4 linked regions of the Homo sapiens genome follow. The protein of the gene in region 2 interacts with the protein of the main gene of each other region in a biochemical or structural test. Each region holds a gene or a part of one and is shown on either strand. Other genes may lie near its edges.

Region 1 (6,131 bases), on a different chromosome or scaffold from region 2:
CTATCTCCAACTATCTCCTATTGGTTTTGTTTCTCTGGAGAACCCTAATATAGGAGTCCTGAAGGTAAACTTAGCCAAGCAACAAACATAAATTGAGACTGCAATATACCTCTTTAAAACCCAGTTAAGGCATGGCAAAGTTGAAGGCATTGGCCCCGAATGCAAATTGTGTCTTTCGCTAAGTTAAGAGTATTAATATCCATCACACAAGCTTGCTGGGGGCTCAAATTAGATGACATATAAAACATTGGGCAAATTGCTAAAAAAACTTTGTTATTAATTATAACTTTTATCTGAAGCAACTCATAAATGGTGATGACCTTAGCAGAAATATCCTAAGTGACTTTGTAATAATTTTAAAGTGGGAGACCATTACCCCCCACAAACACATACAAACACATACACACACTATGCACATGCTCATTACATACAAATACATAGACATACACAGACTCTGACACATAAACACCTGTTTTGGGAAAAAATAATAAAGCTGACTGTTTAACCGTTAAACATTTTTATTGTGCAGGCTTGTAACCTTTACAGGACATGCATGATAAAAAATTGTAAAATATATCAGTAAGCATATAAAATTTCAGCAATCTTTTGGACCAGTAATTGATTTGCATGAGGGACTAAGCATCTATGTAGAACAGACATGTCTTGGAATACACAGTTTACAGATTGAATCACAAAGCCATTTCCTAAGTGATTTTCTTCATATAAAGATAAAAATATCTTTACATTTAAAAAGTATGCAGTATAGCACATTTTCAGTTATGTACACAGTTTAAAAGTAAAACTATATCCATGCCAGTGTCTGTTTTAAATGCAAAAAGTCAAAGTAGGTAACAGGTTGGTAATTAAAGTGTCAGGAAGACTGGAAGAGGCAAAAATCAAGCAGAGTTCCAATAAGTGTATGAAAAAAAAATCATAACTGAAGGTTTAAGAAAAGTCCCCAAAGGCAGAATCACAATATGAGCAGGAGGAATAAAAAGCTTTTGGATATACCAGGCAGCTTTCTGTACGACTCAGGTTTACAGGTGAAATTCCTCAGTTTGAGTTCAGAAGAATTTGAACTTATTCCAGCAAAATACTTCAATCTTTTTATTACTGCCTCCTCCCCCATCTTCTTTCTGGGCAAAGGGATGCTTGGATTAGGTCCAAAGCTCCTGGCAGGGGGAGGGGCCATGTGTCACAGCATAACAGACGGTTGCAAGTGCTTTACTGAGCAGGGGTCAGGTTTGCAGCAACTCTGATAGGCTCACACAATGGCCTCCATTTTACAGCCCCTCCTTGGAGGCCCACTGATCAGCTGAAATGGGAACACAATGTTGAGCCACTAAACCACCCCGGTGATGGATTAGTTTGGATTCAGGAAAGCGTGATTATTCTTGAAAATAAACGAAGCTGAATAGACATGCTGACCTCATTCAGTTGATGAGAGGCAGGGAAAGCTGGCTTCCAGGACTGCCAGCCCACAGAGAGCTCAGCCCTATTGGTCCACTTTAATTCATTTCATTGGGCTAGTGTCAACCATACCCACTACGGATAAAGATGTTGCCAGATGAAGCCCAGAAGTGAGCTTCACCAGACTCTGTAGCTCAGAGTCAGAAACACGCATGGAAAACTAGGTCATGGATATTCTAATTTTGGTCTTCAGGGAGGCTGCTGACCTAAAGCGAGTTGCTGAGTTAGACCCTATTTGAAAAGGAAAATGTGAAAAACAGGAAGGCACTGAGGTCTTGTTATCTACATAACAAATATTCAGGCACAGAAAATATCATAGGTTAAAATTTCAAGAAGAGTAAGGCATTAGTTGGATCATGAGAAGGCAGAAGATTATGTTTTCTAACTTGTAAGGATCACTGGATCCTACTGGATTATGAAGTGAATGGCAGTAATCCACTAACTCCTTAAACAGTGGGAAAAGAGTTTGCTGAAAATCTGCCCACATACTTGTACACTCCATGGCCATACCCTGGAATTCTTCCCTTAACATAAAATGACCAACATTTTGGAGTAGGCAGTTGAGGTTGTTGGTTCTTTTCTTTTTTTTTTTTTTCCTCCTCAGTTCTTCATATTTCTCTCAAATTACCTTTCAACAATATGTTCATATCTCAGCCAATAAAGCGATGGTTGATCCACATGCAAATAAAAAGGTAAGGAAAAAAATTTAAATGGGTTTTAAAAATTCAGACTGCCAAAAATAGATGAAATAGCTCAGAAGAGACATAATACTTATGAAAACTGAGAAAGTGATCTTTTTATTTTCAACCAAGATAATTCAATTCATAAATTGTTGCTGTATTAGCAACTTGGAACTTGAAATTGGCACCAGGAAAATTAAAAGGAAAAAAAATCAGGTATACTTCTATCCTTGAAATGTCATTTATATTTCTTTCTGCAAGTTGATGCGGACATTGCTGAATATTTTCCCAACAGCTTCAAAGAGTGGGTCACAGACGGTGTGGACGTAGATGGAATAGACACGGCTGATGCACTGAATCTCAATCAGGAAGCTCTTAATGCATGGTACAACTGCCCAGATGTGCAGGAAAGAGAGAATGGCGAAGTAAATGCCCCAGATGAGTGCCATCGGGATGCCAAAGAGGGCAGACAGCAAGCGGTAAAACCAGTATTTCGTCACAGTGAAGGTGGTGAAGCTGGCCTTCCAAATGCCGTCAAAACTGTGTGTCCCTTCTGGTTCTGCAATCACATCTTCAAAGTCAATCTAAAAGGAAGAAGTGACACAACATGAGCACAGAATAGAAGAAAAGAGAAAAAAAACCCACTATTCAGTATCCATAGACATATACTGTATTAGCATTTATGAGTTCGTTCTTTGTGAGATGCTTAAAGGCAACCAGCAGCATCAGCATCACTTGGAACTTGGGAACACAGATTTTTTTCATTTTTATTTTTTTGAGACAGGGTCTTGCTCTGTCACCCAGGCTGGAGTGCAGTGGCATGATCATGGCTCACTGCAGCTTCGACTTCCCAGGCTCAAGCAATCTGTCTGCCTCAGCCTCTTAAGTAGCTGGGACCACAGGTTCATGCCACCACACTTGGCTAATCCTTTTTTTTTTTTTTTTTAAGAGATGGAGTCTCACGATATTGCCCAGGCTGGTCTTGAACGCCTGAGATCAAGGAATCCACCCACCTTGGCCTTCTGAGGAGTTGGTATAATAGGATGAGCCAATAAGCTGACCTGAAACACAGATATTTGGGTTCCCCTTGGACCTTATTATCTCTCAAGGGTGGAACCCAGGATATTTTTAAACATGTTCTCTAGGTGTTTCTCTACCACACAAAAGGTTGAGAACTACAGCTCTAGAGAAAACCAAATGGATGTGATTAAATTTCTTGACTTAAAGTAAAACCCCCAAACATGGATAAGGATACGAGGCACTCAGTACAATGTAAGGAACATGACATAATTTAACTGCCTTTGAAGACAACTACACATGCAATGTTAAGGGGCAGTTAGTTGATAATCGGTTAACAATTCTTCAAATGCCCAATTAGCATAATTACTTCAGGAAATTAGATCATGGTGTGCTGGGAGGCATCAAGAAGGCTTCATGAGGTGGGAGATTTGAGCAGGGCTTGGGCAATTGGCTGATTTGGAGAGGAAGAACAATGGGACGTTGGAAATGTGTCAAAGCCCCAGGAACAAGCAAGGGTGTCATAGTAAGTGTCTCAGGCAGAATAGACCTGTGTCACCGAGGCTGGAAAGACAGGTTGAGGCCAGACTGAATATTATTTTACAGACAGTGGGGTCTATGGAAGATGTGGGAGCAGGGGAGTGTAGCCACAATCGATGCAGTAGTTTATCAAGATGAGTTTGACAACCGTATGCACACTGGGAGAAGGAGGAAAGAGACTCAAGGCAGGGAGACTGTTGCTGTCACTCAAGTTTGAAGGGCCAGGACTGGAAAGGTGGTCATAAAAAAAAGAAAAGAAAAGAAGGTTCCAGAGATGCTAAGGGAAGAATCCACAGGACTTGGTTAGCTCAAGGGTGGGGATGAAAGGAGCTGGAATGCAAATTTGGCCCCTTTCCCAATAGCTCTCCCAGGTACATGTTCACCCAAACAATTAATTACAGGAAGTTTTATCCCTCTGTAAAGATTTATATAAACTACACTGAAGCACAGGATTAAAAACAGAATTACCAACAGAAAGGTAGGACAGAGCCAGTGCAACTGCTTGGCAGTGACAGCTATAGGAGGGGATTTAATGCAGTTTGAAATCCCAACAAGTGGATGACTGACAGCAGCGACTCAGGCAGGCTCAGGATTAGGGAATGAGGACTGCCATGACTCCACGGAGCTACTCAGTGCCAAAGAGCCACCTTTGATTCAACAAAATAAAATGTCTTCTGGAAAAAGCACATGATGCTTACCAATTTTTAAAGTTTATTTTGTAGAACATTCTGTTTCTTGACTTATTGTCCAATGTTCTAATAATGTAATGTGAAAAAAACGGCATGGCCACAATTATGTAAGTGAGCTTAAGTAGATGTATTGTCACTCATTTTTCTTCACCCATTTGGATCTAGACACAGGGTAAACATTTAGTTGTGTGTTTTAAAAGGTGGCAAATACATGGCAAATCAGGTCAATACTTTTATGAAGTTTCTGTGCAAATTATTTGTCTATTATGGGTTTGTGTTCTGACACTGCATTCTTCCCAAAACTATCAAAAATAAGGGGCTCTGGTTTTCCTGCATTCAACTGCAAGACACCTAAAGAATTTTATTTTTTAAAGATGTCTTTGTTTTGTAAGAGGATTTGAAGGCAGAATTAAAATACTACAGCAGGTGTTCTTAATCTGGGGTCAAAAGATGGGCAATGGTCATCCATGACTGCCCTGAAATGGACACACATTTTGAGTGTATAATGGGAAATGATCCATCACCTTTATTAAAAAATAGTCTATTACCAAAGAAGGTTAGGAAGCAATTTACCGGGAGCAGAGGATTCCTACCTCTTTACAGAGCAGACCCGAAGCAGGTCTGCCTTGAGATTCTTTTCCTAGGAGGGGAAGAGTTGTGAACATTTGTTGACTAGTTGTGATCAGACACTGTTCTCATTTAACTGACAACAACTCTATAATATAGTATTCTCACTTTATAGAAAAAATGTGAGGTTCAGAAATGCTAATGAGTTGTCCAGGTAAAAGAGAGGTAGATTTGAGGCTTAAATCTGGTCTGAAAGTTATCAACTTTCTTCAATATTGTACCACTTTACAAAAATGGTTTTCAAATTTTATCTAAGGTGAGTATGCTATTTCATAATTAAAAGGCACGTTAATAAAAAAGAGTTTGCCAAATTTAACCCTCTGGTAACTGCAACAATTCTCCCGGCATGTTCTTTGAGGACAGTGTTACACCATATACACAATTGGTCCTTAGTGAAGATATTTAAAAACATGAGTGTGTAAGATTTCTTAATAATAATTCTATTTTTCTAAGCATAAATTCAAATTATTTTTCAATGAATACATAGGAGATTCTTACACTTTCTTTTAAGTTGCTTACTAAATTTCTGGATGCCTGCATTTTCAGTGAAACTGCATTTTCAGAAACTGCTAGTGAGCATGATTTATCCTCAAACGTCCAAGTGAATTTAGAGCAGGTCTCCAGGGGTGGAAAGCAACATGACAAAAATAACATGTTATATAAATATATTCAGTTAGTTATTGCTGCTTTAGTCTTTGAAATTTAAGGCAGTTTTAAAGAAAACTAAAAGTACAGCCAATTAGGTGCAACTGAAAAAGGAAGCAAGGCAGGTTAAAGAAACAATAGAGGCAGAAATAAAGCTTAGTTTCTTTCTACCTCCATTTACACAGCAGTAATTAGTTTTAGAGGAGTACATGAGATAATTTATTTAAATTACTTAGCTTGGGTGCAGAGCATAGCAATATGATTAGTAAATGCCCAAAAAATAGTAGCATTTAAAAAATCTCTTGCTTTTGGTGACTAGGTCTTTCTCTCTCTCTCTCTCTCTTCCTTCCTTCCTTCCTTTTTCTTTCTCTCCTCTCCCTCCCTCCCTCCCTTCTTTCTTTCTTTCTCTTTCTTTCTTTCTTTCTTTCTTTCTTTCTTTCTTTCTTTCTTTCTTTCTTTCTTT
Region 2 (7,487 bases):
AGAGCTCATGATTTATAGACCATGTAGGGGACTTTCAAGGACAATTCTACCTCAGCTGGAATCTTGCCTCACACACCGACTGGGGGACCTGGGGACCTCCTGGGAAGATGCAACTCCCTGCAATGTGAGCTGCTGGGGGAGGGGCCTCTTATGTTTCTGCCTGGCCCAGAACCTGGCGTCAACAGTAGTGCTCGATGCATGCATGCTGGTCAAGATGAACTGAATGTAGTGGCCGTCAATGCTCTTGAAAGCATTCCCCATTCAGTTCTCATTTCACCCTCAAATCTCCCAGGCAGGTGGGAGGCATGAGTGTTACTGGTTTCACTGGACAGGGAGGAAACTGACGCTTAGAAGGAATCTGTCCAGGACCCCCAGACCTGGGAAAGTGCCCAAGTCTCTGGACAGCCAATGTGGGCTCCCTGGCCCACGCCTCTTCTGCACTGCCTGGCGTGAAGTTCATCTGCAGCTTAGGTGAGGAGTGGCCGGGAGGGGACCCTGGTCCCCACAAAGACACGATGTGCCCCACACTCTGCACCAGCTCACTGTGAGGCAGCACTCGGGGGCAGCCCTGGGTACCCTGTGAAGGGAGCTGCTGGGGGCTGGGGGAGGCTACTCACGTCTGGAACGAAGGGAGGGTCCAACATCCCGGCTTCTAAGCGCTTGAAGTTCATGTTCCTGAAGAAGGGGTGTCTCTTGACCTCTGCAGCCCCCTCCTCCTGGCAGCCCAGCCTCTGCTTCGCATCTTTCGTGAGCAGCTGAAACAGAGAGCCCCATGAAGCCACGTCCCCTGGGCCTCTCCTCCTGTCCGGACCTCCTGCCTCCACAGTGTCTGCACCATGCCTAGGAACCCAAGACACGCTGCCCCACCCTGCAAAGGTCTTGCTTCAGGGCTGCCTCTGAGTCTTGGCGTGCATCTGTGCTCACACACTCACAGCCTGGCTAGATGCCTGATGGGACAGGAGAGCAGGAATCTTGTTTCTCTCAGGATTACAGACCTCGTTCCTGGGTTATGGTGGGCACTCATTAATGGGTGTCGAGTCACTGTCACCTCTTCTGTGTAGGGTAAGCAACAAAAGGCAAGGACTGCATCAATAGCTCTGTCTCGTGCACATACTCAGCTAATTTGCAGAGTTGTACCTCCTGGGTGCAAGCCCCTTCCTGACAGAGAAGGCACCACCGAGGCACTTGGCCTCTAGGAGTGCTCAGACTCATGGGGGGCTAATCATGCTCAGAGGACGCATCAAGGTGATACAGATCGGGCACCCCGGGGGCAGGGGGCATGACTGGCTGCCAGCTGGAGGTCAGGGAGCTGCACGGGGAAGAGGTATTTAAGTTGAGTCTTGCAGGACAAATAGGCTTTCAAGGTGTGGGTAGGGGGAGGGGTATACAGGTAGAGGGAACTGCACCAGCAAAGCAGAGTGGCAGGACGTGCAGGGTGAGTCTGGGGAACACCCAAAACACGTTTGACTTAGAAAGCGGGAGGAGGGTGCAGAGATGGGTCAAGGGGAGGGGGCTGGTCAGGGAGAGATGATAGAGGATCCTGAAGGCCAGGTCAGGTGGCGGGATTTTCATCTGGAGGTAGAAGGAGCCAGGGATGGTTGAGGTAGGAGAGTGTCTTCATCAGAACCACGAGGCAGGAAGGTTACTAGGAGAGGAAGAGTCTTTGGGAGCAGACACCCAGGTGAGACGGGATGAGGCTATGAATGAGGCCAGAGGGCTAGACCTGCGCAGGGGGCCTTGACTAGCCATGGCCAGCCACACGACCACAGGGCCCCGGCCCCTGACCTGCACTCCCAGTGCCCCAGCCTCGTGATTCTCTCTTCTCCTCTGCCTTACTGAGCGCTGCAGCTGTACGCAGTTGGTGTCTACTAAGTGTCTGCTTTGAGGCTAAAATCCAGAGGAGCAGACTGCTTGGGGTAGGGGCCCAGCCTTGTCTTTTCCCAATGCCCTGTGCGCTTTGCTCATATTCATCCCATGTACACTTCCTGCTGGTCCTTGTGGGGCAGGCACTGCACCGGCTGGGGACGCCGGGGAGAGTGAGCAGCCAGACTGGCCTCTTGGGGCTCAGGGTCTGGAGGGGGCTGCCCCCCAAACAAAGGAATCGAAGGTGGCATCAGGGCCAGCACCAGGTTCCACCCTTGAAAGGACAAAGCAGAGCACTCAGTCGCTCAGTGTTGCCCCTTAACGCCCCCACGGACCACCAGGCTGGCGGCTCAGGGTCTGGCACTCATGCCTCTGCTTCTCTCTCTGGGGGCTTCACTGTTCAACAAAGGCTCAAGGCACTGGGTTGGGCTGGGCCCAGGTGCTGCACTGTTCTAAGCAGTCCCTCAGAGGCAAGTCTCCTTCTGCAGGGGCTGCAGCAGCTGGCCAGGAAGGTGGCACAAACGAGGATGAGAAAGGCGAGGGGTGGGCTGGGTGGGCCGGGCCGGGCTATGTGTCAGCTCCTGCCAGGTGGGACGGCAGCCAGGGCCTGGGGCTTCTGCTTTTCAAGAGAAGCCAGAAAATCCAGGTTATTACATGAAATCTCCTCATTTCTAAATCTTGGCAATGAACCTACCATTTACTTCTTTTGAAAAACCGTGTGCAGGTTGAACACCCGCCTATATGCTGCCATTTGAAACCCTGGCATCCAGTCAACAGTTTGCAGCCACATCGTCAGGTAAAGAGTTTGCAATCATGCTATCAGGTGGACACCAGGAGAAGTGAGAGGAAGAGAAGGTGTGAGCTGGGATGGGTGGGGCAGGCAGAGCGGGCTTCCTGGAGGAGGGGTACAGATGGGCTGGAAGGACAAGTGAGACCAAGACGGCTGAAAGGCAAGAGGGAGCTGGAGGGGGGCTAAGGCCCAGTGCTGGGACTGAGCAGGGGTTTGGGGAAGATGGAGGCTGAGGTCTGGGCCCATGGACTGGGCTCAGGAGACAAAGTGGTGAGATGTGTGAATTTCTGGGCTCCAGAGGAGGGGGAGTGGGTTCTGCGGCTGCTAAGGTAGAATGGGGGACAGACCTGGGGGCCAGAGACTGGCTTCCTCACTGATTGTGGAGGGACCCTCTTAGGCAGGCAGGGCTGGAGCCACCAGAGCCTAGAAATAGCCCTGTGAACCCAGGACCTGCGAGGTCTCCTGGCAAGTCAGGCTCTGCAGTGTCCTGAGCTGCCACCAGCTGGAGGGGACAAGGTAGGCCTAGATGCCGGAGATGCTGCAGTCAAGGGCGTGAAGGAGGCCTAAGACTAGACTCCCAAGACCAAAGATCATTTGTAAGGGAAGCCGCAGCAAGGCCAGAGGCTTCCAGAGGACAGTGGTTTTGTACCCACGGGACAGGTCCTCCGGGAGCAGCAGGCTTTCTCTCAGTGTCCACCAGGGGGCAGCAGAGGGACAGCAGCACCCTGGTCCAGGCTGCAGCAGGAGATCCCAGCTCCAAAGCCAGGGGCCAAGGTGGGTGTCTGGGGTCTGGGGGTGGGACTGGGGCCCTCTCCGCCTCGTCATCCTCTTAGTACGTCCCATATCCCTGCTGAGATCTCTCAAGACCTGCTTCTCTGATTGCCTGGCCCTGACCTGGGACATTTGGTGATGCTCTGCCCACGGCTGTCTGACCCCTTCTTCTTTCCCTTGTCTCGTTTTGTCGCACCTGACAGATATCTCCCAATGAGACAGCCAAGTATGGCTCACACCCACATTTCCATTTACCCGACCAGTGCTGCACTGCTCCTCCGGTCCCCCCACCCTAGCCCTGGCTGCGATGACCATGTGGCTTTCTCTGAGGCCCCAGCTGCATGGCGGGCCAACAGCTGTGGGGTTAGAGTGTGGGTCTGCTGTACACACAGGACTTCTTCCCACAGCTCTGTGATGTGAGGATGAGGTTGGTGACAGGAAGGGGCCAAGCAGAGGTGTCTGGCTGCAGGAGAGGGGCCTCTGGGGTGAGGAGCCGAGCCAGACCCTCCTGGGGCCGCTTGCGGCGCAGATCTCAGGTCTTCCTGAGCAGAAGCATTGCGACTTTTAATCAACTCCCAGGACTGCTGCTTCCTAAACTCCGGGAGTTGCCTGGGTTGTCAATGCACACGCTGAATCTGCCCCAAAAGTGCCTGCAGATGTAGAGGGGTGGGAAGTGTGGCTCCCCCCTCCCAGGCTCGGTTTGCCCATCTGTGGCTCCGGGTACATGGGATACGGGGTACATCTGTGGCTCCAGGGAGAGGAGAGGAAGTCTGTGGGCTGGCAATTGTGGAGCTGGGTGCTCCGGCCCCTCCTGTCCCTATGAGGCTGGCATTAGAGGGCAGCTGCTTGCAGTGGGGGTGCCAGCACAGCTGTGCTGGGGACCATAAGGAGGAGGGCCCCAAGGGGGCATGGGCTGGACTTGGGGGCTGAGAGCCAGGCAGCAGCAGGAAGTGGCCATCTCCCCACAAAGCCAGCCACTAGTCCTGGTTCCCAGGGAAGGGCCTGAGGGCCGGCATGGGGCGGCCCAGTGGCAGGGGTGCACGGGCGGACTCCACTCCCATATCCCCCACTTCCAATGGCTCCTGTCACTCCTTATCTGGCTTCCAGTCCCCCCATCTGGCCCCACCCACCCAGCTTTTGGGTGGGTCTGACCTCACTATCCCTAGACCCTGTCATGCAGGAGCCAGGCTGGCGTGACCAGCAGTCCATCTAGTGGTGGAAAACTTTGTTATAAGATGTTCAAAGACTGAAATCGTCGCCCCCACCCCCTGTAGCCCTTCGTCTTAAACCAACACCTTAGGATCCAGAGGTGGAGGGAGCAGGAGGCCCACGGGCAGGGGCCGGGGCTTGGCCCAAGGTTGCTTTGTGTCTGGGGCACCAGCTCAGACCATCTCTTCTCCGCCCTGTGTGGACCCCCCCACAGGCTGGATGTGAGGGTGTTCCACACTGTTCCCCTCACCCCTCTTCCCTTGGTTCCTGGGTGTCCCTGCCCCACCCAGGCTTTCTCCTGGAAGTCTCCGCTGACCACCCCAGTCCACAGCAAGGAGTGCCCTCAACTCTAGCTTGGTGGGCTGCAACCCCCACCCCCATGCTCAGACCCCTGTCCCTTCAGCCTGTTTGCTGTTCTGGGGACAGACTGGGGCCAGGCCCAGGGAGGGGAGCCACCAGCTTGAGGGTGGCATCTGGCCACCAGGAGCTCACCATCTTGCAGATGGACTTGGCCTCCTCGGAGAACTTGTGGGAGTACACCTCCTCCGTCTCCAGGACCCGGCGGTCCACCTCCTCCCGCTTCACCTTCTCCTTGCGGCCGCGGAACGGCGACTGGCCCTCGATCATCTCATAGATGAGGCAGCCAAGGCCCCAGTAGTCGGGGCTCAGGCCGTACCTCTGGTTGTTCAGGACCTCTGGAGCTGGGGGCAGAGGAGAGGAGAGAGGAGTGAGGAGGAGGGAGACAGCTGGTGGCGCTGCTCACAGAAGGCCTGGAGTTTCATGGCCGCCACCAACTCTTACCCCACCAACTGCTGTGAATACCACCCCCTCCAGGGAGCTTGCCCTGATGACTCTCCTCTGTGCCCCCGAAGGACTTTGACTGTAGCTTTAGAACTCTGACCACCGTGGATGGAGGTGTCCTGCACTCTTGATGTCCCCTCGCCTAGAACATGAGCTACTTTATTCACTACCGTAACAATATGACACCTGGCACAGAACAGGTGCTATCAGTATATTTGTTTCAATGAATAAAGGTGTATCTACCCAAATTAAAGATGATCTTAAATTTATCTGTAATTCAAACAATCTCTTGCTATGTCTTCTGTACCACTTTGATAAACCGAATTACAGATTTACCATAGAAATACAGAAAAGATAGTTCTGCAGCATCAGCACGTATGTCTGGAGGGAAATGCATCCACACATGTGCTGGTTTGCACACAAGAGCCGGGGCAGACAGATGCATGGAACACTCTGCAAAAGGAGACCCAGGCAAATGCACACACAGGTAGGCAGATCTATCATCCACCCATCCATCATCCATCATCCATCCAACCATCCATCCACCCGCCCACCCGCCTACCTATCAATCATCGATCAGCATTCATGTGGGCACACACACACTCACATACACACAGACACACACTCCACAGGTTGCCAAATGTCATGCAATCTGAAAAGGACCCTCTAGCACCAGAGACAAGGCACACCTCCTGTGCAGCTGCTGTCAGTACCAGCCTGACTAGAGGGCGGCAGCGTGCCTGCTCCCCGGGCACGCGCCTCTCAGGGGAAGGAGGGTAGGTGTGTGAAATGCACAGGAGGAAGCCCAGGGCGTGCCCCCAATTGGACGGGGGATTCTAGGGCACAGGACTTAACTCTGGGTCTCTTCCCTGCAACCCCCAGGACGCTGGTCTCAGAGCAGACTGAGGAAAGGTGGCAGGAGCCCAAGGCTGCTCTCTACTGGAATCATGCTTGGTGACACAGCAGCTGTGCGCGCCTCTCATTTGCGGGCTCTTGTGAATTACCTCCTTCCTCTCAAAGGCCTCTCCTCCCAGACCCCTGCTTCAATGTGGCCTCCCCTAGCAGCGCTGTATGCCAGGCCCCGACCCCTAAGAGTGGCTTGGCTTTGGACACAGGTGGGGCTGGGGGCCTGGGAGTGCAGAGAGCTCAGAGCAGTCATCACATCTGGGGCCCCTGTGCTCCCCCTCCCCCTGGCTAAGGCCGCCCCCCAGCAGCCCTGCAGAGACTGTGACTCTGTGTGTGATCAGCAGTGCATGAAGAGGCGAGAGGCTCTGCGGGCAGGCTCTGGGGGCTCGGCCGGCGGTGAGCAGGTGGTGGGTCTCAAGGTGCATTGACACAGGCAGCCCAGCACTCACCCATGTAGCCAACAGTGCCCACCCGGCCGCGGATCAGGTCTCCCTCGGGGATCTTCACAGCCAAGCCCAGGTCTGAGATCCTAATGTGGCCTGAGGGGGACAGCAGGGTCAGTGGGTCCCTGGGACAGCCGCATGGGCACCCGGCCTTGCTGTGTGCCCTTGGGCAAGGCATACGAGCTCTCGGCATTCTCATCTGTCCAAGGACAACAGGGACCCCAATCTGCCATCTCAGAGTGACCACAAGAGCCTTGGGAGAGTGCAGGTGTGGGAGGACACAGGAAAATGCCCACTCTTCAGGAGTGGAACATAAAGATGCAATAGGATGCCTGGACCCGGCTGGACGTTGACCGACCTGCCTAGTCAAAGGCTGAATGGGCTTCCTGGAACGCTGAGGTCAGAGAATCTTGGCTTGGTTCTGGGATTACTTCATGGGAAAAATGTGAGGTTCTTCTGGCATTATGCAACAATTTGCTTAAGGGGAAAAAATTATAAAACGATTTGGGAAGCAGCTCCCCGGCCTGCCTTGTTGGTCTCTGGAGATTGGTTGTTTTTCACTTTAGAGAAACGAGAAGGGAAAACATCTGGTCTGACCTGGCAGAGCCTGGAGATGAATCCCAGCTCACAGCCCAGGACTGAGCCCCCAGAGCGGGAGACGCTGAGCTGAGGCTCCACTTTGGTCTTTGTCCCTCCCACAGCCC
Region 3 (7,761 bases), on a different chromosome or scaffold from region 2:
TGATAACTTCAAAATGTCTGGGGGCCGCTGGGAAGGCCAGAGGGCCTGATCTGGGCTGGAGGATGAGAGACGGAAACGGGGTGGGGAGTATCCCGTCTGACAATTTGGCAACACAGACAACAGTGATGGAGCCAGAACTGGGTGTCTAGGCAGACTGAGCCCGGCGGGGGGGTGGGGGAAGAGGCTGGTGTGGGAAGACAGGGTTCTCAGGGCGAAGGCCAACCAGCACCCAGAGACAGGAGGGGCAGGCTGCATGCTCCCCTTTCACTCCTCCCACAAAACATCAGCTTCCACCTACTCTGTGCCAGGCCCTGGGCCAATCGCTCACTGTCTGAAGTGGGTAAGAGAAGAACAGATTCAGTTCCTGGACCTCAAGTAGTGGGGAGAGGACTTCCAGCCTCCAAGGACTGACTATGTGAGGAGGGAAGGGACACTGCCTAGGCCTTGAGAAATGGGGAACAGATGGACATCAGAAAGGAGACTGCAGAGGGTATCCCAGGCCCAGGGACCCACACAGACAAGGCAGAGCAATGTGCTTTCAGGACAGTCCATGTGCCAGGAGCCATGGGTGTGGTGGGAAATGTAGACTGAGGCAGGACCATGAAGGGCACTGAATGCCAGGGTACAGGGAGCCGAGGCTTTAACTTGTAGGAACTGGGGTCCATCAGGGGCTCCCAGGCAGAGGCAGGAGCAGGAAGTGCCAATCTAAGGGGAAGAGCAGCATGGCTTGGAGGGGCCAAGTCTATTATCAGAGAGAGAGTGTCAGAGAGCCAGAGGCCAGCAGGAATGAAAGACCCTGGGGAGGAGGCAGGAGGGAGGCCAGAGCTGGGATCAAGCAGCCATGCACTTTAGCCTTCTCCCGGTCTCCATTGCCACCACCCTCGCCCCTGCCACCCTCATCCTGTGGCCTCATCAGGCCTCCCTGCAGTTTTTCTGTCCCCAGAGGCCCAAGTGACCGTTCTAAACTAATCACATCATGGCAGTCCCTTGCTTACAGTCTCTCGTGGCCATGATAACAACGTTTTGCCCTGGCCTGCAAAGGGCCCTCGTGAACTGTCTCCTGCCCATCGCTCTGACCTCACCTCCTACCACTACTTCCTGCCCTGCCCCCAGCTCACCCCAGGGCCTTTGCACCTGGCTTTTCTGCAGCCCTGCCCCCCTCTTATTACTCAGGGATGAGGCATTCTCTTCAGGGAGCCACTGGATGTCAACTCGCACTGCTGAAATGCTCTGTATCACCATCAGGAGATCAGGAACCATTCTTTCCTGTTCACTGTGAAACCCCAGCATCTGCAGGATGCCTGGCACATAGTAAGTGGACACAAAATATTTTTCAAATGGCCACAATCCAAATATGCCACGACCCTGGGCAAGTTATCCAACCCTGGCCTTTCTTCTGATACCAGCCAGTGGTTGCAAGGAAAGTGGACGGGGAAGAGAGCTGGCAAAGGTAAAACCACAAGAGTTGTGATGCAGGTGGACCTGGAACGCAACTCAACTCGGCCTTGGAGGTGCTGGAGGGAGGCGCCACAAGGGGAGGGGTGGGGCTTCAGAATCTATAAAGCTCCGTTCAAACCCCAGCTTCAGCATTTACCAGCTGCTGACCTTGGGCAAGGTACTTAGATCTCTGGGAAGCCCAGTTTCCCTTACCTGTAGAATGGGCCGAAGCATTACATGAGGAAATGGATGTTATGACATTTTACCCAGTACTTGGCATACAGAAAGTGTTCAACACCAGATAACTATTAATAATGGTAAAAAAGATAAGAAAAAGGAGGCTGTCTGCTTTCATCACTGCACTGGTCCCTGGCCTTTCAGCTGGAGCCCCCCACCTCATCAGCCCGCCCCGTGTCCCCATTTCCGGATACAGACCCAGGCTTCTATGGGCTGGCTATGTCCCCTATGACCCCTGCTGACCTCGCCCCATCTGCTGACTCATATTCTCCTGCCCAGAACCCCCCTCCCCGGGACCCGGCCCCAGCTCCACACTGTCGGGGGACCCCCAGCCCTGCAGCCCCAGAAACCCCGCCCCTTACCCACCGACGTAGAGGACGCCCTCCTTGGTCTTCTCCGCCGCCTCGGTGACCCCCTGCTTGGTTTTCTCCGCGGCTGCCACAACGCCCTCCTTGGCCATGGACAGGCCCTTCATGAACACGTCCATCCTGGCGGCCTGGGGAGGGCGATACACGGGCACCGGTGCACTGGCCCCGCACTCTCACCCCAGCCCCTCCCGCGGGACGCAGATGCCCCCCTACTCCCGAGACCGCGGCGCCCTTCTGGACCCTGAGCCCCCTCCCGCTTTCCCCCCATCCCACCCCACTCCCCAGTGCGAAGCCTCAGGGCCGCGGAGAGTCCTAGCGTCCTTGAAACCTGGGGACGCGGGAGGGGCCACTGCCTCGGTTATCCGGGCCCTGCAAACTGCAGCCCCGTCGAACCGGAGTGCTGGGTTCGGCGCGAATATCCAGGACCCGCCTGTACACGCACGGCACAGTCACACGGTCATGCACACAAACATACACCACGGACAAGCTCACGTGCACACACAGGACACGCAGACGCTCCAACGCGCACGAATACCCCGACCCACATGGGCGCGGACACACGTCCCCACAGCCGCCCGGGCAGCTGCAAACACCGGAGCATACTCACATACTCCGGGGTGCACACTGACGCGCATCCCCCGGGTCTCCCTCCATTTTCCATCCCCTTCCCCAGCTCCCTCCTGTCGCCCCAGTCCCCTCTCCATCCTCATCCCGTTCCCCATCCCCGGCGCGCGGCCGCCTCACCTGGATGCGGGGCCGGGGCTGGGGATGGAGCGGCGGCTGCGGCGGGCGGACGCGGGGGCTCCGCTAGGCCAGGCCGGGGTGGACCAGGGGCCGGAGGGGGGATAGGGCCGGGATCAGGCGCTCGGGTCGCGGGTCCTGAGCAGGAGCGCAGCAGTGCCCGGGTCTCGGGTGCGTAGCCAGCCACCGCTCGTTCCTCGCGCCCTGCGAGCTCGCGCGCTCCGGCTCCGGCTCCGGCTCCGGCGCTGCGGCAGCTCTGAGCTCAGCGCCCCCGCTGGCGGCCGCGCCGCCCCTTCGGCCTGACTGACAGGGGGCGGGGAGGGTGACAGCGCGTAGCCGATGAGCCTCCCGGGGCGGGCCCGGGACGCGCCCCTGGGGGCCCCGGCCGTAAGACTCGCGTAGTCTGTTGGGAGTTGAGGGAGGGGGACAACGCGGCGTGTGAAGAGTGGGGAAGAAATCACGCGACTGGATTTGGAGTTCTGCTGGGCTCGAATCTCAGCTGTGCTTTTTATTAACCGTGGGACCTTGAGCTACTCGGCTCTCCTTTCTGAATGACAGTTTCCTCCTCTGTAAAACAGGAATGGTTAATTCAACGAATGTTTACTGAGCGCTTAGTCCAGTGGTGCAGGTTTAAGGCTGGAGGCAGCGGAAAAGGAAAACAAGGTTCCTGGTCTCGGGAAGCTTACCATGGGGGTGTCTGTACGCGTGTGTGTTCGTGCGCTCAGTGGTGGAAGACAGGACAGAAAATAAACGGATCAACATCCAAAGCAACAAGGTCATTACAGCTTGTAAGTTGTGAAGGTAACGGTGATGTAACACGGGGACTAGAGGAGGGGTGCTTGAGACAGGGTGCTCAGGGAAGGCCTCTACCAGCAGGTGAATTGTAGCAGAGACTCCAGAGAGGCACCATGACACCACGATGGGTGAGGACAAGATCCATAGAGAGTGCAAGTGCAAAGGCTCCAAGGCAGGACTGTGCTGACAAAAGACAGCGCAGCTGGAGAGCCAGGATGGAGGGAGGTGGAGAACAAAACCACTTTTTTGTGTGCTTACGGTGGGGACTGTCAAAATGATCACAGAATGCCAGGCACACAGTAGGCCCTCAGTTGGTTCTATGATAGAATTATGCCCAAGAAGCTGTAGTATCCCAGAGGAAAGGGACTCTGACAACTTAGGGGAGTCAGGAAAGGACATAAAAAAGAGGTGACAACTGAACTGTGGCCTGACAGGAAGGGGACTATTTCATCGAGCAGGCTAGGGAGAAAGAGAATTTTAGGCTGTGGGTACAGCATGGGCAAAGGCACTGTGGCCAGAAATGCAGGGTGTGTAAGTGACAGGTAATTAGGCGAGGGGGCCACCAGCAGCCAGACTGCAAAAAAAAAAAAAAAGGAAAAAACCCAACCAACCAAACAAAAAACATTCACAGGCCGCTGGTAGAACTGCAAATTGGCGCAGACATTTTGGAAGGCAATCTGGCAATGTTTACCAAGCATAAATGCATGCGCCTTTGGAGCCAACAGCTCCCCTTCCAGGAATTGATCCCGTGCGACTCTAGCCATACATGCACACAAAGATACCTGTGCAAGGATGTTCACTGTAGCATGTTTTTTTGTAGCAAAAAACTGAAAATGATCTAAATGATCATCTGTACAGGACTGGCTAGCTAACTGTGGCACATCCACCCAGTGCAATGCCACACTATGGTTGGCAAAGATGAGCTAGACCCATGTGTGCTGACATGGGAGTGTGCCAAGATGTGGTGGTAAGTGTGAGAAGCAAGGTGCCAAACTGGAATGTGTGGAATGAGCCAATTTTGATACAAAGGGAATTATATTTTATGTATAAGTACTTATAATTTTCTATGTGTCAAATATATATTATATACTAACATATACATACTTATCACATACTATATACATTATACACAGACACCTTATATACAAACATACACATATTTATGGCTAGATATACAATTCTTTTTTCTTTCTTGTTTTTTTGAGATGGAGTCTCCCTCTGTCACCCAGGCTGGAGTGCAGTGGTGCAATCTTGGGTCACTGCAACCTCCACCTCCAGGGTTCAAGCAATTCTCCTGCCTCAGCCTCCCAAGTAGCTGGGATTACAGGCATGTGCCACCACGCCCAGCTAATTTTTGTATTTTTAGTAGAGACAGGTTTTCACCATGTTGGCCAGGCTGGTCTCGAACTCCTGACCACAAGTGATCGGCCCACCTAGGCCTCCCAAAGTGCTGGGATTATAGGCATGAGCCACCTCACCTGGCCACACCTCTGTAATAATTTCTGAGAAAACTGTTAAAGGGAGTTGCACCTAGGAAACGGGACTGAGAGGGTTCAGGGAAGGAAGTTTCACATTCCATTGCCTTCCTTACTGGTGCTGTTTGATTATTTTCCCTTGGATAGTATTTTACTTGTGTTATTTTAAGAACTAGCATGGAGGGTACCTGCAGTTATTTTTGGTCTCTCAGCATTAAAATTGCCCCCTTCCCATGTTTAGAGGGGTCCCCCACCTTCTGAGGCAGAACCCACCTTCCCCTCTGAGAGATGACTATGCCAGATAATTGCTTTCTCAGTCTTCCTTGCAGCCAGGACATGTGACTGACAGGTGCAGCTCCAGACTTGGGACCTGAAGCTAGTCCCAGGAAGCAGCAGGGAAGCAGAGGGCGGGGTGGGGGAGGGGTGTGTTCTGGTGTGGAAAAGTGGTGGTGGCAGCTCCTGCCAAGGACCATTGGCAGCAGTGACACTCACTGTGGGAGTGTCCAACACCAACAGGACAAGCTGCACTGTCCATGCCCAGCCATGGCATCGGGATTCTTCATAGGTCTGCCTGGTAGTGGGATTTGGGGCATCATTTCAGGCTGTGTGGTCTCCAGCGTGGATTTTCTAGCTATCCTGGAGATTATTTGAGCTGTCCAGTGTTTTTTTTGTTTGTTTGTTTGTTTGTTTGTTTGTTTTAAGAGATAAGGTTTCACTGTATCACCCAGGCTGGAGTGCAGTGGCACAGTCAATCATAGCTTACTGCAGCCTCGAACTCCTGGTCTCAAGTGATTCTCTCATCTCAGCCCTTTCAGTAGATGAGACTACAGGTGCGTGCCACCATGCCAGGCTAATTTAAAAAATATTTATTATTTGTTTGTGATTTACTTATTTATTTTTCGTAGAGACAGGGTATTTGTTTGTGATTTACTTATTTATTTTTTGTTGAGACAGGGTCTCACTAGGTGGCCCAGGCTGGTCTCGAACTCCTGGCCTCAAATGATCCTCCCACCTCAGCCTACCAAAGTGCTGGGATTACAGGTATGAGCTATTGTACCTGGCCCATGAGCTGCCCAGTATTTAATAAACTCCTTATTTGCTTAAATCACCCAGAAGTGATTTCTGTGGCTTGGGATTAAGAACTCCTGATGCCAGAGTACAAGATAAAGAAAGATGAAGGAGGATGGAGGAGCGGGGAGAAGGAGGAAGAGAGAAAGAAGATGAAATGAAGCGTGTCTGAACTTCAGATCACAGGAAACAAGAAGTCACTGAAGGATTTTAAGCACAAGAGACCTAATGAGATTTGCATTTTATGGGGCCAAACGGAGATGGGTTGGAGGAGGATAAGGCTGGCTGTAGAAAGATCAGTAGGAGGCTGGGGCAGACTCCAGAGGAGGGACAAGGACGCCTGAACTACAGAAGCCCGGGTGACGCTGGAGCAGGGCTGGAAGGAGAGACGTGAACATCACTTGGGAGTAACTTATTAGGTGTTATGGGAGACGGAGAAGGACAAGTTGAGGAAGATTCCCAGGTTTCTGGTTTGGACAATGGGGTGAGTGATGTTGCTGCAAAATGAAATAGGCATTGAGGGGGTGGAGCAGCTTGGTGGGGGGATGATGATGAGCTTGTCTGGGGGAATGACAGACAAGCTGGAGGAGGTGTCCAGCAGACACTAGGGTATCTGAGCCCAGAGCTCAGGAAAGCACTCCAGGCTGGCTTCAGATGCAGATTTGAGCCACGGTGTACTCAGAATTCTTTAACAAATGGCACAAATGGCTCTCCAAGGTTGGGGCGGGAAAAGGGTAGGCAGGAAGGAACACCTAGATTTGTGGTTTGCCAATGTCCTTGGGGTAAAATACTCCCACCACAGTTGATTCCAAGCTGTCAGTGTGATGTCATTGAACAGAAAATTGGTTCAGTTATCTAGAATTTTCATGAGACAGATAACGTAGATAAAAATAACCTTAAGAGCACAGATAATAGTAAAATAACTAGGAAGTTATGTGTTTTGAGTATTATCTATGTTTTTTAAACATAATGTAACTATAACTTTATATAATTTAATTTTTAACAATGTAATGGCTTTAACAACTGGCTCACACAATTCCTGAAGTTTTTTTTTTTTTCTTTTTTTTTTTTTCGAGACAGAGTCTTGCTGTGATGCCCAGGCTAGAGTGCAGTGGCGTGATGTCGGCTCACTGCAACCTCTGCCTCCTGGGTTCAAAGGATTCTCCTGCCTCAGCCTCCTGAGTAGCTGGGATTACAGGCACCCGCCACCACACCTGGCTAATTTTTGTATTTTTAGTAGAGACAGGGTTTCACCATGTTGGCCAGGCTGGTCTCGATCTCCTGACCTCATGATCCGCCCACCTCAGCCTCCCAAAGTGCTGGGATTACAGGCATGAGCCACCACGCCCAGCCAGATTCCTGAAGTTTTAACAATTGTTCTTGTGAGCCAAGTGAGATCAGTGCCCCACTGGGTTTGGAGTCATTAGCATAGAGGTGGTGGCTGGAGCCATAGGGCTGAGTGTGATCGTCCGGGGGTGCACGGAGAGTGAAAAGAAGAGAGTGCCCGGAACAGACTCCTGAGGTGCTGCAAACTTCGGGGTGGCCAGAAGCAGAGGAACCTGGAGAAAGACTGAGAAGGCTCTGGCAGTGAGAAAGAAGGACAAGCTGAAGAGAGTGCACAAAGACCTTGGGGATAGAGG
Region 4 (7,896 bases), on a different chromosome or scaffold from region 2:
ACATAGGCCCTGGCAAAGATTTCATGATAAAGATGCCAAAAGCAATTGCAACACAAACAAAAATTGACAAATAGGACCTAATTAAACTAAAGAGCTTCTGCACAGCAAAAGAAATTATCAACAAAGCAAATGGACAACATATAGAATGGGAAAAAAATACTTGCAAACTCTGCATCTAACAAAGGTCTAATATCCAGAATCTGTGAAGAACTTAAATTAACAAGCAAAAAATAAACAGCCTCATTAAAAAGTAAGCGAAGGACATGAACACTTTTCAAAAGAAGACATACCCATGGCCAAGAAGCATATGAAAAATTGCTCACTATCATTAATTATTAGAGAAATGCATATCAAAACTTCAATGAGATACCATCCCATATCAGTCAGAATTGCTATTATTAAAAAGTCAAAAAGTAACAGATGCTGGTAAGGTTTCAAAGAAAAGGGAACACTTGTATACTGCTGGTGGGAATGTAAATTAGTTCAGCCATTGTAGAAAGCAGTGTGGCAATTTCTCAAAGAACTTAAAACAGAATTACCATTTGACCCAGCAATCTCATTATAGGGTATATACCCAAAGGGATACAAATTGTTCTACCATAAAGATACATGCACTGATATGTTTATTGCAGCAACTATTCACAATAGAAAAGACATGGACTCAACCTAAATGCCCATGAATGGTAGTACACTGCATAAAGAAAATGTGGTACATATTTGTATATATACCACATATATAAATGTGGTATATATATACACGTGTAAATGGAATACTACACAGCCATAAAAAAGAACAAGATCATGTCCTTTGCAGCAATATGGATGGATCTGGAGGCCATTATTCTAAGCAAACTGAAGCAGGAACAGAAAACAAAATACTGCATATTCTCACTTATAAGTGAGAGCTAAACGCTGAGTACGTATGGACACATAGAAAGGACAACAGACACTGGGCCCTACTTGTGGCTGGAGGGTGGGAGGAGGGTGAGGATCAAAAAACTACCTATCAGATACTAAGTTTATTACCTGGGTGACAAAATAATCTGTCCACCAAACCCCTGTGACACAAAATTTATCTATATAACAAACCTGCACGTTACTCCTGAACCCAAAATAAAAGTTTTTTAAAAACCATGCTGGTGTCTGTGTATGTGCAAATATATGGGCAAATTGCAAATAATTCATGTTTTCGCTTTAAAAAGTAATACATGAAGTTGGTATAGACTCTTAGTTATTTGTATAAAATATAGGAAATAATTCAAAGAAACAAAACTTTATTTAAAACTTTTAAAAATAAACAAATATGAATAGAAACTCACAACATATATATGCATATGCATAGGAATATAAATATAATCTACTTCCCAGCAATTCCACTTTGAATCTACCCCCATAGAAAGAAAACACCAGGATGTAGAGAATGTTTATTGTTAATTGCCTTTAGTGACAAAAACTGGAAACAAAGTTAATTTTCATGAATAGAGAATTGAATGTATAAATTACGGTGTATCCATAACATAGAAATAATATTTAACCACTGAAAAATGAGTTAAATCTATACCTGTTGACTCTGAAACAGCTGGGCAAAGTTTAGAGTGGGAAAAACAAAATACAGACAACAATGAAAGTCCTATATTTGCATTTACATGTGTGAATATTATGTATGTTTGTATTTCCATCTAGATAGTATCAAAGAGTCTGGACAAATAAGGAAGGATTTATACTACATTGTTAACAGCGTTTACTTTAAGATGTGTGATCCTGTGTTGAGTGTCAAGGAAGATGTTCAGTGAAAAGAGGAACGAAGGGGGAAAAAGGATAAGAAAACAAGAATATCAGCTCTTGGAGGGAAATAGCATGTATAGAATTTTATCTATATATTTGTGCAAAGCTGTAGGGGGAAAATTCATTACTTTATAGATGGGTGATGCTAGATAAAGTGTCTCCTCATATCATAGGTATGAACCAAAAACAACTTCTGCTACTGTATAGCTGAGGCTTTTTTTTTTCCTCAATGGTGAACCCATCATGAATATGCTTTTTCTTTTTAAGAAGAGAAACTAGCTTTAGCAAGTCATAAGGATTCCTAAGATATGGCTACCAGCCATGAAAATCCCGGAGTAGAAAGAAAAACAACCCCAAGTCAGACTCATCAACACATCAGAGTTGAAGGCCAGGGTAAGGAACGTAGGTGTCCCAGTGCCTGGCACCAGTTCCACCATTTGAGGTGGCTTTGGACTGGCATACAAAGCCTCAAAGTTAGCCGAGGGCTAGGCAGGATGGAGGCAGGGAGAGAAGGCGGGCTGACCTGCGCTCCAGTCCCTATGCAAACCTGGAAGGTGAGCAGGGAGAAGAACCCCTGATGCCACCCAGGGCCCCGCTCTGACCTGCAGGCTCATAGGTGGGCAGTCATTATGGGACTTTAAGCAGAGTGACAAGGTTTGATTTATAAAACTTCAGCCTGAAATATTCGCCTTTTTTCCACCCTCAACCTCTTCCCATCCTAACTCATTCTTCAGGCTTCTTCATGGATGAGATTTTCTTCCATCTGTACGGATACCCCTCATTGTTTAGGTTAGGTGGCCTCCCTCTTCTCTCCTCACTCAGGGCTTAGTACCTTTGGTCATCATAATACCGCCCATTTTGTATGGTTCATTGCTTCTTGTTTGTCTTCCTCCATACTGTAAGTGCTTGTTCACCCCCCAGCCCCAGTGCCCAGCACAGTACCTGCTTCAAAATATCAACTTGCTGTACTAATGGAGGATAAATGGATTAATGTTTACTTTTTAGCTATTTCATATTTATTTTATATTTAGCTCTTATTACATATTTAGATTTTATTCGATTAGCTTTCTTTTTCTCCCTTAACCACTGAATAAAGTTCCTTTTGAAAACGTCAGCCTGGCTCTAATGGACAGGGAGAAAAAAGAAAAGATAACTTTAAACAGCTTGGAAGGAAAATTAAAGATAGAGAAGTTTCCCCTCCCCCCTCCCCCACCCTCCGCATCCCCTTCCCTCTCCCTTTTCCTCCCTCTCTCTGTCAGCTCTTTGAGATGGTGGAAGCCTCAAGCAGAGATCCAAGGTGGAGGAGGCATTCCCTTCCACAAAGAAGACCTCTTGTGCAGCCGCTCTAAATAAAGGGACGCTGTTCTCTTGAAAGCATCTCTAGAGTTTTCTATGCAGTGTGTTTACGGGTGCCTAGGAGAACCTGGCAAAGCAATGTGCGGTTCCTATATACGCTAAAATCCCAGGCTCCGAAAAAATACAGAGTGAAACAGCAGATTCTCCTCCCCGGCGTGGGATCCAATTTTTGCCCGGCATAAGTGTATAGTAAATTTCCCAGCCTTAAAGCACTTCCCGAGAGATGCTTTGAGCGCTCGCGGTACCAGTGCGTAAACGCCGCTCCCCGGCTGGCGCGGGTGTGCGCCAACTCCAACCTGCGCGCAAGTCTGCCGGTGCGCGCTCCAGTCCCACAGCTCCGAGTCCCCGCAGTGAAAGGAGGGGGCGGTGCACCGGGGTAGATGGGCCCCTGAGGACTCCCGGGGTTCAGTTTTCCGCGGAACTCTGCCTGCAGCAGTCTGGCGGGAACGTGCTGCGGAGCTCATCCCATCTTGGCTTCTCCAAAAGGGTTTATACGGACTGGCGAGTCTTTGCCCTGCCTCCTCCAAGTGTCTGGCACCAGTTCTACCGTTTGAAATGGTCTTGGACTGGGATACGAGGCCTCAAAGTCAGAAGACGGCAGGGCAGGATGGAGGCGGGCAGAGAAGGCTGGCTGACCTGTCCTCCAGCCCCTATGCAAACCTGGAAGGGGAACAGGGAGAAGGACCACCGATGCCACCCCGAGCCCGGCTCTGGCCTGCAGGCTTGGCAGGCGCGGAGGCGGAGGCTGCCAGGTCCCCGGGAGGCAAACGCAGCGCCGCAGTGATTGCTGGCGGAGAGCCCAGAGCCGCGCGTCTGAGCGACAAGCTGCCTATGAGTGTGGCTCCTGCGCTCACCAAGATTCGCAGGGAGCTCAGCCCTGTCCCCAGTGATTGAGCAGAGGCTCATCCAGAGGGGTCAGGTGGAGGGCTCAAATGGAGCTTCTCCTGGAACGAGGGGCCAAGTCACCAGGGTGGCTGAGGAAAGTGTCCTCAAAGCTTAGAGACTGTCACTTCCCAGGTGAATCAGCTAGCCAGGTAACTGAGCTAGATATTTTGTGGGGGTGTTTCCTAAACACAGCCTCAGGAAAGTTGTTTTCGGGACACCTGGACCAGGGAGTCGTCGCCTCTGGCTTCTCGGTAGCTGGAGCGCGGCCCGGAGCGCGGCGCTGGCACATCGCCCCCACACATGACCGTTTCCCATTGCCACAGGCAAGCCGCCTCTGCAGAGCTGTCTCAGGGCTCTGGGCTTCATTCCCTGGAAGTTGATTGTCCTCCACTCCAGCTGTTTCCCAAATCCTTCCTTCCTCCCAGCACCCCTCGTGCAACGACGATTCCAGCTGCGGACCGCATCTGTGTCAGTTACTTCCAAGCCACCTACTGCCCCCTCGCGGAGTGCGTGGGGCTCCCGGCTCGCAGACTCCCACGGCAAGTAGCAAGCAGCAAAAGGCGTGGTAGCTGCGGCGGTGGAATGAGACAGTTGTCAACAGCTGGCGCAGCTGCCGCGCTGCGCACCGGGACTGGCGAGTACGCAGCCCAGGTACTGCCCCTTCCCAGTGACGTCTCTGCAGGGGGTTATAAAAGCCTCGTGCGCAGCTAACTCGCGAGCTGAGCAACCCGAACCGAGAGGTGCCCGCGAAACTGCAGGCGGCGGCAGCGGCAGCAAAAGAGAAGGAAAAATCTCCAGCTGGATACGAAGCTCCAGAATCCTGGCCATAGGCTCAGAACTTTTACAGGTCGCGCTGCAATGGGCCCCCACTTCGCTCCTAAGTCCTCACGCAGCACAGGGCTTTGCCTTTCCCTGCGGAGGAAGGAGAAATAGGAGTTGCAGGCAGCAGCAGGTGCATAAATGCGGGGGATCTCTTGCTTCCTAGAACTGTGACCGGTGGAATTTCTTTCCCTTTTTCAGTTTACCGCAAGAGAGATGCTGTCTCCAGACTTCTGAACTCAAACGTCTCCTGAAGCTTGAAAGTGGAGGAATTCAGAGCCACCGCGGGCAGGCGGGCAGTGCATCCAGAAGCGTTTATATTCTGAGCGCCAGTTCAGCTTTCAAAAAGAGTGCTGCCCAGAAAAAGCCTTCCACCCTCCTGTCTGGCTTTAGAAGGACCCTGAGCCCCAGGCGCCAGCCACAGGACTCTGCTGCAGAGGGGGGTTGTGTACAGATAGTAGGGCTTTACCGCCTAGCTTCGAAATGGATAACGTCCTCCCGGTGGACTCAGACCTCTCCCCAAACATCTCCACTAACACCTCGGAACCCAATCAGTTCGTGCAACCAGCCTGGCAAATTGTCCTTTGGGCAGCTGCCTACACGGTCATTGTGGTGACCTCTGTGGTGGGCAACGTGGTAGTGATGTGGATCATCTTAGCCCACAAAAGAATGAGGACAGTGACGAACTATTTTCTGGTGAACCTGGCCTTCGCGGAGGCCTCCATGGCTGCATTCAATACAGTGGTGAACTTCACCTATGCTGTCCACAACGAATGGTACTACGGCCTGTTCTACTGCAAGTTCCACAACTTCTTTCCCATCGCCGCTGTCTTCGCCAGTATCTACTCCATGACGGCTGTGGCCTTTGATAGGTGAGATTAGCCTTTGTGAAAAGGCGAGAAAGTGCTCATAGAGGACCACGGCATTGCTGTGAGGTTTGGAACTGGGTGGGGTATGGGTCAAGTGGAAGATTGGCCACTCTGAGGGTTTTTTTACTGATCAACTGAGTCATTTGTTGATGGGGAACTTCATCTTATGTATTTCAACTTTTTTTCCTCTTTTTTACCCATCACTCTCTCTCTTCCTTTCAACACACATCCCCCTTTTCTTCATTTAACTCCCCTTTCTTCATCTCTTCTCCACTCATCTTCCTGACACTTTCAACTTCTGCTTTGCTCCTTTCCATATATTCCTTCTCCCCTTTACCCTTGCAGGCTGCAAACAATACCTAGGGTTTGGTCAAAGGACTAGACCCTGGAAGGGGCTTTGTAAATTCCTCCAGGCCTGTTTTTCTGTCAGACAGCCTCTTGTTGCCTTCCTGTTTTAAGTACACCTAGAGGATTCTGGGACTTTCTGCTCCCACTGCAACTCTCCAGTTTGTTGTTGTAGTTGTTGTTGTTGTTTGGTTGGTTGGTTCGTTGGTTTGTGTTTGTTTGTTTGTTTGTTTTGGATGTGAAAGAGCATTTCATCAGTATCATAAGATACTCAGAATTCTAATGCAGTTTACTCTGTAATGCTAGGAATTCTCATTCAGGAATGAGAGACAGTTATGCTATCCTTAAGAAACTCCACGGATAGGGATCCAGGAAGCTTACCCAAGAGGTGTTCTAAATTTCTCCTGCAATGTAAAATGTATGTATTTAGCCTGTCTCTATCCACAGAGAAACATGCTTGGCAAAGGCATTTGAGAGCTCTTCTGTTCCGGCAACCAACAGGTTAGGGTTCCCAAAGCTGACTGAAAGTGAAAAGGTTGGCATTTCAAACACTGGGGATGGTATTCTGGAATGAATGGCTCTTCAGGTAGCATGATGGAAAATTGATTATTGGAGCACAGCTCTGTTGGTATTGTCTCCTTTGTGAGTATCTTAGGTCTCCAATGTGTATGTCTATGTGTGCACAGGTGTTAAATGTTTACCTGGGATGTGAAAGTATGCTTAAAACACCTACCACTGTGATTTTAAAATGGAGTCTTTTGATGTCCTTCCTGAGATAACTGAATGTGAGAAACCCAAAGAAGGAGCTAGGAGAAAACTTCAAAAAAAATTCCAAACTACTAACCCTCTTTGCATAAAGATTGTTTATAACTTGCAAATTATTAGAAGTCTTTTTTAGCTCCTGTAGTCAATGAACACTTTTAAAATCAGGGAAATCTTCATTTCCATCCTTTGCAGTGGTGTCCAAATACTGATTTGTTAGTTCCCTGTACATCTCTCTATATGCAGCTCCTATGTGCTTACTATGTTTTATGTAAAACAAATTGTGGAAAATCAGTTTGTATTTTAAATGTAGATGGTAAACCAATTACTCAAAGTGGGAGTGAAATGAATTATTTTGCAAATTTATCTTTTGTACTACACTGGTTTTCAGATATTCAGTTTGCTGAAAGTGAGGTACACCTGTAAATCTTTCTGCATTGACATGCTCCTTTAATCTCATAACAGCTTCCTTAAACTTAAAAAAGTCGATAGCATGATATATAAGTGAATATCAGGGTAGTGAAACCTGATGCCAGTTCAGCCTTACAAACACTCTCTTGATGCCCCCTAAATTAGAGGGCAAGTTTTTTGGGGGGTTTTGTTTGTTTGTTTGCTTTTTCTGCACTGGGGCTTTGCACAAGCTCTAGGAAGACCTGTCAGTCAGTGTGAGCTGGAGCATTCAGTAGCTGATGGAGCACCAGCAGACAGCTCTCTCTTTTGGCTTACACAGAAACATGTTCTGCAGCCCTGATCTTTCCTCTGGAACTTAGAAGGTTAGGGGTGGGGATGAGAGTCAGAGTCCGCACAGTGGATTGGGCAGGGAGCCAGATTTCAGCTCCGTTGTTGTTTTTCTCTAGGTAAACCACCGCAGAGCCCCGACCCTCTGTGATACCTGCTCAGTGAGACCAAAAGGTCTCGGATGCCAGAGCTTTAGGAAATGACAGCGACAGGGAATGTCACCATGTTTCCAACATGCAGATACAGCCCAGGGAGGTTACCAATGGCATTCCTAAGATTAGAGTTCAAGGTAGAATTAGGGATGAGACTTCAGGTCTCTGTCTCCATGTCTGCCAAG

What was found.
Region 1: the proteins of GRK5 (region 2) and CAV1 form a complex in vitro, tested with the Homo sapiens proteins (one study listed by BioGRID).
Region 3: of the proteins of GRK5 (region 2) and SNCB, one has a biochemical effect on the other in vitro, tested with the Homo sapiens proteins (one study listed by BioGRID).
Region 4: of the proteins of GRK5 (region 2) and TACR1, one has a biochemical effect on the other in vitro, tested with the Homo sapiens proteins (one study listed by BioGRID).

The regions. Positions count from the first base shown.
Region 1 is NC_000007.14:116,555,549-116,561,679, reverse strand, and holds the end of CAV1 (caveolin-1), read right to left. Parts: intron 2,735-6,131; coding exon 2,393-2,734; 3' UTR 501-2,392; downstream 1-500. UniProt on the Homo sapiens protein: May act as a scaffolding protein within caveolar membranes. Forms a stable heterooligomeric complex with CAV2 that targets to lipid rafts and drives caveolae formation. Mediates the recruitment of CAVIN proteins (CAVIN1/2/3/4) to the caveolae.
Region 2 is NC_000010.11:119,441,391-119,448,877, reverse strand, and holds part of GRK5 (G protein-coupled receptor kinase 5), read right to left. Parts: intron 6,880-7,487; coding exon 6,790-6,879; intron 5,335-6,789; coding exon 5,126-5,334; intron 756-5,125; coding exon 618-755; intron 1-617. UniProt on the Homo sapiens protein: Serine/threonine kinase that phosphorylates preferentially the activated forms of a variety of G-protein-coupled receptors (GPCRs).
Region 3 is NC_000005.10:176,627,494-176,635,254, forward strand, and holds the start of SNCB (beta-synuclein), read right to left. Parts: upstream 3,042-7,761; 5' UTR 2,787-3,041; intron 2,473-2,786; exon of another isoform or gene 2,316-2,472; intron 2,171-2,315; 5' UTR 2,162-2,170; coding exon 2,041-2,161; intron 2,008-2,040; exon of another isoform or gene 1,946-2,007; intron 1-1,945. UniProt on the Homo sapiens protein: Non-amyloid component of senile plaques found in Alzheimer disease. Could act as a regulator of SNCA aggregation process. Protects neurons from staurosporine and 6-hydroxy dopamine (6OHDA)-stimulated caspase activation in a p53/TP53-dependent manner.
Region 4 is NC_000002.12:75,196,367-75,204,262, reverse strand, and holds the start of TACR1 (substance-P receptor), read left to right. Parts: upstream 1-4,742; 5' UTR 4,743-5,328; coding exon 5,329-5,717; intron 5,718-7,896. UniProt on the Homo sapiens protein: This is a receptor for the tachykinin neuropeptide substance P. It is probably associated with G proteins that activate a phosphatidylinositol-calcium second messenger system.